Homo sapiens: one gene and its partner. The protein of the gene in region 1 interacts with the protein of each later gene in a pairwise test. Each region holds a gene or a part of one and is shown on either strand. Other genes may lie near its edges.

Evidence for each region.
Region 2: the proteins of LEPROTL1 (region 1) and PAQR8 interact in binary tests that used the Homo sapiens proteins (3 or more experiments, as listed by UniProt).

What each region holds. Positions count from the first base shown.
Region 1 is NC_000008.11:30,098,406-30,105,426, forward strand, and holds part of LEPROTL1 (leptin receptor overlapping transcript-like 1), read left to right. Parts: intron 1-3,492; coding exon 3,493-3,568; intron 3,569-5,894; coding exon 5,895-6,081; intron 6,082-7,021. UniProt on the Homo sapiens protein: Negatively regulates growth hormone (GH) receptor cell surface expression in liver. May play a role in liver resistance to GH during periods of reduced nutrient availability.
Region 2 is NC_000006.12:52,357,962-52,365,150, reverse strand, and holds the start of PAQR8 (membrane progestin receptor beta), read right to left. Parts: upstream 3,001-7,189; 5' UTR 2,902-3,000; intron 1-2,901. UniProt on the Homo sapiens protein: Plasma membrane progesterone (P4) receptor coupled to G proteins. Seems to act through a G(i) mediated pathway. May be involved in oocyte maturation. Also binds dehydroepiandrosterone (DHEA), pregnanolone, pregnenolone and allopregnanolone.

The DNA.
Region 1 (7,021 bases):
AATAAGAACTTAAGGGTCTGTTTATAGAGAATGTTGGCTTTAGTATATGGGCTTTGTAACATCTATTTTGTCTCTTTTTAGTGGCCTTTGTTTTCTCCAGGATTCTAAGTTGCGTATAAATGGCTTCTGAATGAATGAGGTGTTACTAGGTAGTATTTATAGTAATGGACTTAGCTGTCTTAACAGTACCTTTAGTGTTCAGAAAATTATCTGCATTTAAGATCTAGTCCAACTGTCATTTTAGAGAAGGAAGAACTGAGACTCATAAATTACTTGGACAACTAGTTAGTAACTATTAGGGCCTTGGACCCTCCAGAGTCTCAGTTCCATGCTGCTTCCACTCTGCTACATTCATTCCACAAATATTTGTTGAGTGTTAAGAGCCAGGCACGATCATCACAACAGAAAAACTTGCTCCCTCCTTTCGTGAAATGGACAGTTGAGAAGGAAAGACAAAATACAAACCAGTAGGAAATCGCAGCTGATAATTGAGCAAAGGAGAGGCATTCAGTGAACAGAGGACCTCAGCATACACGGGTCTCTGCCAGGAATACTCATCCCAAATACCCACATGATTTCCTCCCTCCCCTCATACAGATCTTTGCTCAGGTGGTGCTTCATCAGAGATGCCTTCCCTGGCCACTGTATCTAGACTAGCACTCCCATCCCTTACTCTACCTGACGTTTGTCATCACTTGACATTTATTCACTTGCTTATTAAAAATCATTTTCTTCTCCCACTAGAACGTGAGAGCAAAAGCTTTGATTGTTGTCATTGCTCTGTCTCCAGTAGCAAGAACAGTATCTGACACACGTTAGGTGCTCCATAGATGTTTGTTAGAGGAATGAATAAATAAATATAACAGGGAATTGGTCTAATCAGGAGGTTTGGAAAAACTTCACTGAGGCCAGGTGCAGTGGCTCACGCCTATAATCCCAGCACTTTGGGAGGCCAAGGTGGGCAGATCGTGAGGTCAAGAGATGGAGACCATCCTGGCCAATGTGGTGAAACCCCGTCTCTACTAAAAATACAAAAAAAAAAAAAATTAGCTAGGCATGGTGGTGCACAGCTGTAGTCCCAGCTACTCAGAAAGGCTGAGGCAGGAGGATGGCTTGAACCTGGGAGGCGGAGGTTGCAGTGAGTCAAGATCGCGCCACTGCACTCCATCCTGGCGACAGCGCAAGACTCCATTTAAAAAAAAAAAAAAAAAAAAAAAAAACCAGCAAAAAAACACTTCACTGGTTGAGCTGAGATCTGAAGGAAAAGCAGGAGTTAAGTTGGAGGAAAGTAGAGAGGAGTGGGAAAGGACCATGCCTCATTCACTGTTGTATCCCTAGTGCTTGTCACATATTTAGTGCTCAGTGAATATTTCTTGAATGAAAAAATGTCTGAGGCAGAAGGGACAAAGTGTGCACAGGCCACGTGAGTGAGCAAGTCTGCTGATTTCCAGGAAAGGAAAGAGGGCCAGTATAACTGAAGTGAGGGTTCAGGGACACTGTAGTAGCCTGGTGTGACACGTCACAGGAGAGGTGGGCAGGGCCCGGTCATGAGAACCAATTTGGAACTGAAGAAAACAAATGGTAAATTCAGTGTTTTCCTTACAGTTTATATTGCATTCCCCTGTAAACTTGAAGTGCCTCGTTTGCTGTAAAGTAAAAATGCAATTCTTTTCCTGTAGCTGGAAATAGAATGGTATTCAGGACTAAGTGATGTGTTCGGGGTTGCCATGACCTGCATCAGCGATCTAACCAAAAACCAAATCTGCCAAGCCACTATGTCATGGGGTGTCCTTGATTATGACTGTTTTAGTTGTGCAGAGTATATCAGTAGTACTTGGCAAAGTTTAACTTGTTTCCTGTTCATTTTGGTTTCTCTATGTTAGCCTTTGTTTTGGTAACTTTTAGACCTTCTACAAATCTTTCGAATTTTAACTTTTGAATTTTAATAAAATGACCTAACAACAACAAAACTAGTTATTTTCTTAGCCACTGTAACTGTAGAAATACAGGTTATATAGAACTCAAAATAAATTTATCATTTACTTATTTATTTATTTTTTTTGAGATGGAGTCTTGCTCTGTCGCACAGGCTGGAATGCAAAGGCGCAGTCTAGGCTCACTGCAACCTACGCCTCCCGGGTTCAAGCAATTCTCCTGCCTCAGCCTCCCAAGTAGCTGGGACTACAGGCATGTGCCACCACACCCAGCTAATTTTTTGTATTCTTAGTAGAGACAAGGTTTCACCATACTGACCAGGCTGGTCTCAAACCCCCAACCTCATGATCCGCCCGCCTTGGCCTCCCAAAGTGCTGGGATTACAGGCGTGAGCCACTGCACTCGGCTATCATTTATTTCTTTGCTTTAGTCTAGGTCATTGGTTAACTATGCCTATTCAAGAAAGTTGTTTCTATTCACTAACGTGAGAGCACCTTAAAATGTACTGCTGTGTGTGTGTGTGTGTGTCTGTGTGTGCGCGCGTAGCTTTAGAAACTATATTTCACCTGTAGAATGCATCTATTGCTTATAATAACATGTTAAAGTAGTGATACCTCAGAAGGATTATAACCCATTGTCCTACAGATTTTCTAATGTAGATTAGGGAAGGAAACCCAGCTCTACTTTTGCAAACTATTTAAAGATTTGCAACAAAATTAATTGATTAAAATCATTAACTACAGATATTCTCGGGCATTTTTTCTGGTCAGTTTTATGCACATTGAGAGTGTATGTGCCAGAAACAGGAGCTGATTAGAAGAGGTTTTCCTATAGGATGAGGTTTCTAAAGTCCAGTAAACTTGAGCATGTGGAGTTTCTCCACATACTGCTTTTCAAAACTGTAGTGATCTGTGAAGTAAATATAATTCTAATGCCCAGAAGAGCATTGAGCCTGTGGACTTTGACTCTTTAGAAAGGGAACCAGCGTCTGGGGAATATGGTGGGGTACTAGCAGTAGGTTAGAGCTTTAAAAATCGGTGTCACTGGCTGGATGTGGTGGCTCACGCCTGTAATCCCAGCACTTTGGGAGGCCAAGGCAGGTGGATCACCTGAGGTCGGGAGTTCGAGACCAGCCTGACCAACATGGAGAAACTCCATCTCTACTGAAAATAGAAAATTAACAGGATGTGGTAGTGCATTCCTGTAATCCCAGCTTACTCAGGAGGCTGAGGCAGGAGAATCACTTGAACCTGGGAGGTGGAGGTTGTGGTGAGCCGAGATCAAGCCATTGGACTCCAGCCTGGGCAACAAGAGTGAAACTCCATCTCACAAAAAAAAAAAAAAAAAAAAAAAAGGCCAGTGTCACTTCATTTTGCCTTGAAGATACCACAGAAGACTTATTCTAAGACTAGATAACTTACACTTCTGATGGCAACTTGCTATTAATACGTTTTAGGGATTTTTGCTTCTGAGGTTACAGATAATGTTCAGACTGCTGATATTAATAAAAATAATATTTAATTTATATTCCTGTTGCACTTTTTATTTGCTTTGCAGCTTTGATTAGTTTGTCCTTTGGAGGAGCAATCGGACTGATGTTTTTGATGCTTGGATGTGCCCTTCCAATATACAAGTATGTAAAATGTTTGTCTTTCTGAATATTTAAGGGTAAAATTTTTCTACTTTTAAAGCTTAAAAAAATGTTTTTTTACTACTGTAAAAGTAATGCAGAGAAATGTTCACTTACCAAACACATACCTTTGTAAAAATCACCACTTAAAGTTTGTTTCTAAAGATTTTAGGACACCAAGATGCAAATAATATTTTTGGCTGTTACCTGCTCTTTCACTACTGCTGAGTCTGCAGTGGCAAGATAGCTACACAGTACCTCAGCCCTCCTGCTCAGTTTTTAACATCTATTGATAATACTAATTACAAGAAAATTTAAAATGTCTTTTTGCAAAAAAATACCATAAGCAGTCAAAACACAATTAAAAAAAAAGAGAGAGATGTAAACAATTACTTTCCGGCCGGGTGCGGTGGCTCACACCTGTAATCCCAGCATTTTGGGAGACCAAGGCGGGAGGATTGCCTGAGGTCAGGAGTTCAAGACCAGCCTGGCTAACATGGTGAAACCCCATCTCTACTAAAAATACAAAAAAATAGCCAGGCGTGGTGACACATGCCTGTAGTCCCAGGTACTCGGGAGGCTGAGGCAGGAGAATCGCCTGAACCCAGGAGATGGAGGTTGCGGTGAGCCAAGATCACGCCACTGCACTCCAGCCTGGGTGATAGAGCAAGACTCTGTTTCCAAAAAAAAAAAAAAAATTTCTTTCCTTAGGATAGAAAGAACTTCTCAAAGTTAACATTTTAACATTTAGATAAATTAGAAAAAGATGGACAACTCAATAGAAAAATAAATACAAAAAGAGAACTACAAATTGCTAATAAGCACATAAAAATATCCCCAGCCTCACTCAAAACTAAACAAAATCTATTGACAAAGACAAGAGACAGGGCAAGCAGGGACTCTTTTGTGCTGTGGGGGGAGTACACATAGATAGTTTTCTTGGAGATAAGTTTGCTTGTAGCTCTCAAAGTATATATTCTTTGAGTTAGCCCTTTCACTTGTTAGACTTTCTGATACAAACCCACTTGCAGATGTTTACAAAGATATATTTAGTGGGGGAGAGTATGGATGTTCAAGCAGCCTTGTTTATTTTTTGGTTTTTGTTTTTGTTTTGTTGTTTTATGCGTTATTTATAAGAGCCAAAAAAAATTCTGAAAACATCCTAAATGTCCTTCAAAAGAAAAATGGTTAAATTATAGTAAATCTTTTAATGGAAATACTAGGCAGTCTTAAAAAGAATGAGGAAGAGCTGTAAGTGCTAACATGTAAATATGTTCAAGACATATTGTTAGAAAACTGCAGGGACCCATTCATATTTTAAAGTTTATGTGGAAATGTGGAAGGGTCCCTGAGAAGCTCAATAGGAAAGTGGGCAAGAGGAGATTTGGAACTTTTAGTCTTTACTTTTTGTGCTTTTGTACTGTTTGAATTATTTTTCTTAAGCATATATTCAATTTTTAATTTTTTTTCTTAAAATATTTAGGAAATGGTCAGGCGCAGTGGCTCATGCCTGTAATCCTAGCACTTTGGGAGGCCAAGGTGGGTGGATCACCTGAGGTCAGGAGTTTAAGACCAGCTTAGCCAACATGGTGAAACTCCATCTCCACTAAAAATACAAAAATTAGCCGGGCATGGTGGTGCACGCCTGTAATCCCAGCTAGTCACGGGGGCTGAGGCAGGAGAGTCACTTGAACCCAGGAGGCAGAAGTTGCAGTGAGCCGAGATCATGCCACTGCACTCCAGCCTGGGCAGCAGAGCGAGACTCTGTCTCAAAAAAAAAAAAAAAAAATTTAGGAAACATAAGTAGCTGCTTATCATTAGCCTCTGTACAATCAGATCTCCACCATGATACCTATTTTATTCTATGGTAGTTTTAAGGGCATCTATTTCTTTTTAACTTTTTATTTTGAAACAATTTTAGATTCTGAAGAAGTTGTGAAAATCATACACAGAGGTCCCCTGTACCCTCCACACAGCCTGCCAGAGTCATAAGATCTTACATAACCATAGTTATCAAAACCAGGAAATGACTGTGGTACAATACAGTTAACTAGATGTAGAGTAAAAGCCATCTATTTTTATTGTGATAAATTCTATATTCTGACTGAAAGTGTTCTTACTTTTAGCTTCTTTTCTGTATTTTGATTTCTGTAATTTGGGAGTTCCTCGTGTTGTAAGGGAAGTTTAGGGTTGTTTCAGCTTTATGCTAAGGTTGGGTATCATCCATTAGAAGTCAAGCGATTGAATCTTGATTTTTTAAAAAGACCATATTTTGTGTGTAGGAAAATGACATAGCAAAAATTACATTAACTTATTTTTCTTTTTCTAGCAAATACTGGCCCCTCTTTGTTCTATTTTTTTACATCCTTTCACCTATTCCATACTGCATAGCAAGAAGATTAGTGGATGATACAGATGCTATGAGTAACGCTTGTAAGGAACTTGCCATCTTTCTTACAACGGGCATTGTCGTGTCAGCTTTTGGACTCCCTATTGTATTTGCCAGAGCACATCTGGTAAGTGAATATATTCTTCCATTAATGATTTTATATTGAACATGTGTTACATTTTTCTCAAGCAAAGTTTTTGTTAATGACATGAAAAGAGGTGAAAGACATAAGAGCCTAGAAGATAGAGATTAAAATCTCACTTTATTGTTTGTTCTTGTTAACTAATAAAAGTGATATTGGAGAACGTGGCTTGGATCTGCAGCAGCTGTTGGCTTGCTAATACTTTTTTTTTTCTTTTTTTTTTTTTTTTGAGATGGAGTCTTGCTCTGTCGCCCAGCCTGGAGTGCAGTGGCGTGATCTCACCTCACTGCAAGCTCTGCCTCCCGGGTTCACGCCATTCTCCTGCCTCAGCCTCCCGAGTAGCTGGGACTACAGGTGCCCGCCACCACGCCCAGCTGATATTTTTTGTGTTTTTAGTGGAGACGAGGTTTCACCGTGTTAGCCAGAATGGTCTCGACCTCCTGACCTCGTGATCCGTCCGCCTCGGCCTCCCAAAGTGCTGGGATTACAGGCATGAGCCACCGCACCCGTCTGGCTTGCTAATACTTAACTGTCAGAGTTGAGCATATCAACTCCCCCAGTGCTGAACAACCCAGGCCTATCCTGTAAAACCTAAAATATGGAAGACCTGAGAAGGTGCATGTGCTCTGCAGGCAGAAAAGCACTGAAGAGGGGAAGGGGCTGGCTACGGGTACTCAGTTCTTCCTCCCAAACTCACTGATCCACGCGCCTTCATCTCTGGGGAGGTAGAGAAGACAGCCATATGGAGAAGGCAATTGTTTTCCCACCCCTTCAAAAGAATGTACATGGGTGTGTTTCCATCTGTGATATGCTAAAATTTAATCTACTCTAGATAGATTTTTATATTAAGGAAGAGTAAGCACATTCCTTTATAAACAGAAACTTGTAGAATTTTATGCTGCTTCTTCATAGCCCAGAAGTCAAG
Region 2 (7,189 bases), on another chromosome or scaffold:
GTACCTTTTTTTTTTTGGTGAGACAACAAGTCTTTTGTATTTTTGTTTTGCTTTCTGTAAAAATCCACAATGACAGAGACTGCCTAGTAACAAGTATCAGGAGGGGCAAAGAAAGGCTTACTTTTTCTAGCCCAATAAGCCATAAGCTATAACAATAAAGTGACAGGACCAATTACTTTACATACATACCAGAGCATAAACACCAAAATGAAGGTTGTGCTTCAAAGTAGTTAAGTTTTTGAGGAGTTAAATGTTGTACTCAAAATTTCCACTGTGGAGATGATGGGAGCCCCTAACCCCGGTGTTATTCAGGGACCAACTGTAATTCCTTCCAATCCTAAATACATACTCCATGCCATTACTAAATGCCCCTTTTAGAACTGCCAGTCTTTCAAGAGAATTTTCATTACTTTAATGAGCATACTTATTGACAACCTCGATTCCCCACCTCGGAAGCCCAAGTTGGCCCCGCACAGTGCCTGGCTGTTTCCCAGCTGAGGAAGGTTTGCCACCACTGAGGCAATCAGGAAATGTGTTGCAAACTCGGAAGGCAACTCCAAAGCAGGAGCTCCAAAATTATTCTCAGTAGTGACAGCATCACTAGAATTAGTACACAGCTTGCCAAGAGCAGGCTTTTGAAGGGGAGAAATACTGATTTGAATGTATAAATACTGGCATATTTATTTTAACATTTGGATAAAGAATTGGAAGCATCAGCAAGTGTTACGTCCAAGTGAATAAGTACACTGCTGCAGGAATGATAGTGCAGATTTTGATGCAAGGTCCTGACCACTCAATAAGGTATACACACACCCTTAATGGAAATATGCTTATCCTGAAATGATTCTTGTAAAATGAATAAATCGCTTTCTATCCTGTTAACTTGCATAATTATTAAAGATTTCCTTTTCATGAATTAAAAACAGACCCAACAAATGCTAGTTGCCAAAATAATCCTTGTTTATCCAATGAAGCTCAAATCTCAGTGTGTGTCAGAAGATGGACCTATATGCACCAGAAGGAAATCTGGTGCATACACACACCCGCAAAAAAAAAAAAAAAAAAAACATATCTTTCAATGGATATATCCACTTAATAAGATTCCTCTACTCTGGGTCTTCCAGAATTGGTTGTTACGCCAAATAACTGAAATAATTACCATACATAATTAACAATACAAGATGGGTTAATGTAAGATAGTCAACATTTAACTAATAATTGAAGGACACGCACCCAAGGACAAACAGCAGAAATAAAAAACAAAAACAAAAACAAAGCCATGCCTTGGTCCTTTGTTTTTAGATACACACTTGGATACTCATCCACTGAGGTCCTAAGCAGTCTGGCTCCCTTCCAGTTGACCTGGTCAAGGGTGCAGCAGCTCAGGGCTGGGTACACGTTGTGGATAACCTTAACAGGGCAGTCAAGGGCAGTCTACCTTCCATGCAGGCAACTCCTATTAACTTCAGTAACAGGAGTCTTCACTGACAAGCAAATACTCCCAAACTGTACAATACTCTCATGTTTAACTCGACTGGAATGCAGTGCGTTTGTGGACATTGTTTGGTGTGTGTATTTGTTGTGGATTTTCCTCGTTTTTACCCAGAAACAGCTTCTCAGAGTACTGGAACAAGTAGTACACACGTGGGTCTAAAAATCACACATACAGTGTATTGTATGAGTTATCCCTAAGGCGCGCACACACACGGGTAGGTATTACCTGTACATTTGAAATCTCACTCCATAACTAATTTTTTTAGCCCAGGCTCTTCTCATTGGGTTCCTGGACAAAATCATTTCTAACCCAGCTAAGAAATATGGAATGCAACTTAGGTCAAGACAATGAGCCTGCCAAGGCTCCTGGACTTCCCACTAGTCTGCCAGTGCCTGGAGCACCCACAGCTGCACAGGAAGCTGCTGTGCCCGGCTACCTCCAGGTCCCCGCACCGGGTCGGCAAGGTGCAGCAGCCCCCAAACCCAGGCTCCGAATATTCCCCAAGCGCGCTGAGTGCGAGGTCCCCACCCGCCTCCGTCTGGGGATGCCCGGTCTTGCTCCCTAGACTAGATTCCCTCTCGAGTTATCTACGACCCTGTTCCACCGAGGGCGCTGCGTTCTCATAGCCTAGACAGACGTTCCCAGCGTTCCAGCCCCACCAGCCACCTCCGACACCCCACCGCGGCGTTCCCATCCAGCCAAGCCCCAGCATCCGCCCATTAGCCAGCTGCCGGCGGTTCCCATCACAACTCCGCTCCTCGCGCCCACCCTCTCAGAGAAGCCCCCTCCATCTTTCCCCGGCGAAAGCACATGCCTAGACCCACCCTACTCTTTCCGGGGTTCCCCTACCTCGGGCTGCCCTTCCTCGGGCTCTCCCTACCGCCCCGGGCTTCCTCTCCTCCGCACTCCCCTCCCAGGTTCCGTTCCCCTCCGCCCTGCGGAGGGCGCCCCACAAATGCGGACAGGACGCCCCTCGTTCTGCCCTGTCGGACTCCCCCACGTCTTGGTCCTGAATCTCCCGCCCTCCGGGCTCAGCCTTCCCAACATCGCGGTCCCCACACCCCCGCCAGCTCTCCAGGCTCAGGCTCCATGACTCCCCAGCATCGCAGTCCTGGCCACCCCACTACAGCCGTTCAGAGCTCCAGGGCTCCCCAGCATCCTAACCCGTCGTCCCCCCTTCCGGGCTTGGATTCGGAGACTCAACATCGGGGCCCTAAACTCCGGCCCCTGGCCTCAGGTTCCCAACGCTGCGACTCTGGACCTCCCCTCTGAGCTCGGGGTGCGAGGACTCCCCAACGCCGCGATCCTGACGTCCCCGCCTCCCGAGCTCGGGCCCCGGGGCTCCCCGACCTCGCGGTCCCAATACCCAACTCGACCCGTTCCGCGCCTCCCGCGGCGGGACTCACCGGCAGGGGCGGCGGCCGAGCCCGTGCGCGTAGCCCAGCCCGGCCCAGCCCGCGCTCCCGCCTCGGGGTCCCGGCCACGAGCTTCCCGCGGGTGGCTGTGACCGCGGCGGGCTCGGCTCGGGGGAGCGGCCGGGAGGAGGAGACCGCCGGGGGCGGGTGACGCCCAGCTCCGCCCCTTCCCGACCCGGGGGCGGGATGCGCAGACCCGCGCGCTCCGCTGCAGCCCGCGCCGCTGCCGCCGCTGCGAGGAAGTTGACTGACGCCGCTTCCTTCCACCCAGGACGCAGACCCTCGCAGTCCCTGGTAGCTGCAAAAAATCCGGAGAGTTTGAGACAGAGACGCCTTAACCGCCCTCATATTCTTTCCAAGAATTCACCTCTCAGGGGGCCATTTCCGAAGTCCCTCGGGAAGGGCGGAAAACAATAACAAACTTCATCTGCGCTGTCAAGACTGATTTAAATCCTGGCCTTTCTCTCACCACTCTCGGGTGAACGTTCAGGGTCATGCCCATGATATAAATAATGTGATGACATACCACGGAGGCCCTTGCAGACACTTCCACACCCCTAAGATACACCCGCCCAAGACTCGCGCCTCTCCCATGACTACATCACACAGACACATCTGACACTGACCTGCAGAAGATCCCACTTCTACCCTGTGTCCTCAATCCACAGCCTTCGTGGGTCCCAGCAATAGCGACCCACACATACAATCTATTGGAGGCAGGGTGCGGGGGTGGGTTCCACCTCCCGACTTGCTCCTCACCCACAATGTTCTCGGTATTTTACCATGAGAAAAAGACAGTTAAGAAGTTGGATGATCAATTAACAAATCAAGTTGGCTTTGCTTTTAAAAAGCCTTCTTCATTATCTGGAGAAAAGAGAAGGCCTGGGAAGATGGCCTGCTTACTGTAAGATTTTGTCAGACAGGCCTAATTCTGGTCTGCTTACTGTAAGATTTTCTCAGACGGCCTAATTCTGGTCTGCTTACTGTAAGATTTTCTCAGGCCTAATTCTGGTCTGCTGGTTCCCAAAACTTCTCTTATACCACCGTGTTTCAGTGACATGTTGCACAACATCTCACATTTGTACAATGTTTCCATTTTTCAAAACATTTTAGCCGAGTGTGATGGTTCACACCTGTAATCCCAGAACTTTGGGAAGCCAAAGTGGGCAGATTGCTTAAGCCCAGGAGTTCGAGACCAGCCTGGGTAACAAGGTGAGACCCTGTCTCTGCAAAAAATACAAAAATTAGATGGGCGTGGTGGCACACGCCTGTAGTCCCAGCTACTTATTCTCAGGCAAACATCACGAAGCAAAGAAAGTAATCTTAGCAGGATTATTTCAGTTCCATAAATGAAGACATTTAGACTCTGAGCAGTTGCACGGCAGGTTTGAAGCTGAGTCAGAGCCAGGAAAGAGCCCAGGGGCCTGTCTTTAGAGCCACTGATCTCCCCAGGGAATCATAGTCCAGCACTTACTTATAGGTGGATACTAGTGGAAATGTCACAGGAGGTCTTTGGCAGCTTTGCTCCCTCCATCTCTTCTTCACCCCAAAGATGTCAGGGAACTCTCCCTTAACCTCAAAAACCCGGGCTCTCCTTTATCGTCAAAAACCTATGATAGGCCAGAGGTCACAACCGTACAAGAGGGCTTATTGAGAGGGAGTGAAAACTCCTTCCACTTTGGGCCACTCTAGAAACAAAATTACAGGTTAGCACATCTAAAAGCCTATCCACAGCCTTCATCCAACTAACGTGAGCTGTCAGCCGGGAGCTGATGAGCCTCCGAAATGCATTGCTGATTATTTTTGCAGTGTTTTTCTCCCTAACAGTTAATCCATGTGGAATGTGAAGAAGTCTTAAAAGGAGACTAACAAGGCTTCTAATTCTTTCTCAATGGTAAATGTTCCTTTCTTCTTGCCCTTTATCCAAAAGGCAGATGTGAACGTGCATGTAAAGTGTAATGGGTGTCAGGCATTGTTATCTGTGCATGAGGCAGTTCTGTTTCCAAGTGACGCTGTCCAGAGCCACTAAATAAGAATGGTGGTTCTCATCCTTCATGCCTTTTAAAACTACCTTGGTCTCAAGCTAGCTTCTTTTATTTTCTACTGTGAGGTAATGGCCTACTTCCGTTTGGGCAGTAAAAGTGATGTTTTGGTAACACTGGAAAAAGTCCTAGGGTGACCTGGCTATTTTTGAATTATAATAAAAGCCTGTTGGGTCCTTCATAAAAGACAGTTAGGATGGCCTTTGGTATATGGAAATTCACAGCCAACTTTCCTCTATGTAATAATCCCATCTGGCAACACAATTTTGACCTGAGATTTTTCCAAAACCTGGAAACAGCCAAGATCTTGGGTACTGCAGTATTTCCTCAATAAGGAGAATGCTAAACTGCGAATCCAATCAACACGTATCAGACCTAGTTCCCTTTCAGATTGCCCTTGAAAGCCACAGACACAGGCAGTATGCAAAATGATGAAAAAATAGATAAGATTAAAGAGTTATTTTTGTCCGAATCTCTAATAAAATAATTTGATCTATTTTACATTGGATACATACCACATTGACACTGTTTTTATAAACACTCTACTTTGTGTTTACATATCACTTTTCCAAGAAGCTCAAAGTATGTTTGATGACATCATATTACTCAACTTCATACACTTATATGAAGTAGGAAAGGGGTAAAAACTGGTAGTCTTATTGTAACATGGAGAAATGGAAGTGTGAAATAGTTAAAACCACTTGCCTGGAACATTCTGGTATATATACTGGTTTATACTAAAAGTAGACCTGTTTGTGAAAACTGCTACAGTGAAGAGTTATTTAAAAGCTGTACTATTTTTGTTTTCTTTTTATATCTTATGAAAGGACTGAGGACTATTAATTTCTTCACTATCTTGTCAGAGAAAAGGAGAGGCACTTTGCATAGTGGTTAAAAGTGTGGCCTTGGGAGTAAGAGCCTTCAGTAGGTAACTTAACTTTTCTTCTTCCTTTTTTTTTTTTTTTTTGGAGACAGTCTCACTCTGTCGCCCAGGCTGGAGTGCAGTGGCATGATCTCGGCTCACTGCAACCTTGGCCTCTCGGGGTTTTTTTTAAGTAATTCTTGTGCCTCAGCCTCTCAGGTATCGGGAATTACAGGCACACACCACCACGCCCAGCTAATTTTTTGTATTTTTAGTAGAGATGCCGTTTTGCCATGTTGGTCCCAAAGTGCTGGGATTACAGGCATGAGGCACCATGCCTGGCCAGTAACTTAACTTTTCTATACTTCAGAATCCTTATCTCTAACACAAAAATAATAATTGTACCCACATATCTTATAATGAAGGCCTGATTAAATGGGTGAAAAGACAATGACTTCATTTAAGTGGGTTTTTTTTTTTGAGACGGAGTTTCGCTCTTGTCGCCCAGGTTGGAGTGTGATGGCGCAATCTCGGCTCACTACAACCTCCACCTCCCGGGTTCAAGCAATTCTCCTGCCTCAGCCTCCTGAGTAGCTGGGATTACAGGTGCCCACCACCACACCCTGCTATTTTTTTGTATTTTTAGTAGAGACAGGGGTTTCGCCATGTTGGGCAGGCTGGTCTCGAACTCCTGACCTCAGGTGATCTGCCCTCTTCAGCCTCCCAAAGTGCTGGGATTACAGGCGTGAGCCACCGTGCCCAGCTTAGGTGGTTGTTTATGGGATCTTTGTTTCAATGCTTTCTACTTGCAGAAAAGATATACTATCCCAGTGGACTACATAGGAAGAATTTGGGGAAACTTGAATGTCTGTATTTTTTTACCGTGAAGTCAAATCCATCATTCCTTGACATTCCATGATCAGATAGCCATCCATACTTAGTTTTTCTATTTAGATCCCCTGCCAAATGGCCAACTGGGAAAAGTAACCATGATACTAATTTCACATACAGGATGCTAAAGAACTGTGGTTAGTCAGATTAAAAATAAAAATCATGATTTTCTTGTACTGTCTGTCTATTTTATCCATTTAATGGTGGAATGGTAGGGGCTCACTAAAGCTAATTTGATTTTCATTAGGAATTGCTCATGCCATTTTTTCCTTTTTGTTTACTTTTAATAATAACAATTCAGGGAGCAAATAAATTAACCCATGTAGACAAAAAAGAGATGTAGAAATTGCTCCTGGGCCCTCCGTAAGCCCTGGGCACATGTGAGGTTTTGAGGCCTTATATCTGATCTCTCATTCTCTAATGTAACTAGTTCCTAGTTGAAGAGTTTCAGATGGCAAACTATAAGAATAAATGATAAAAGGAC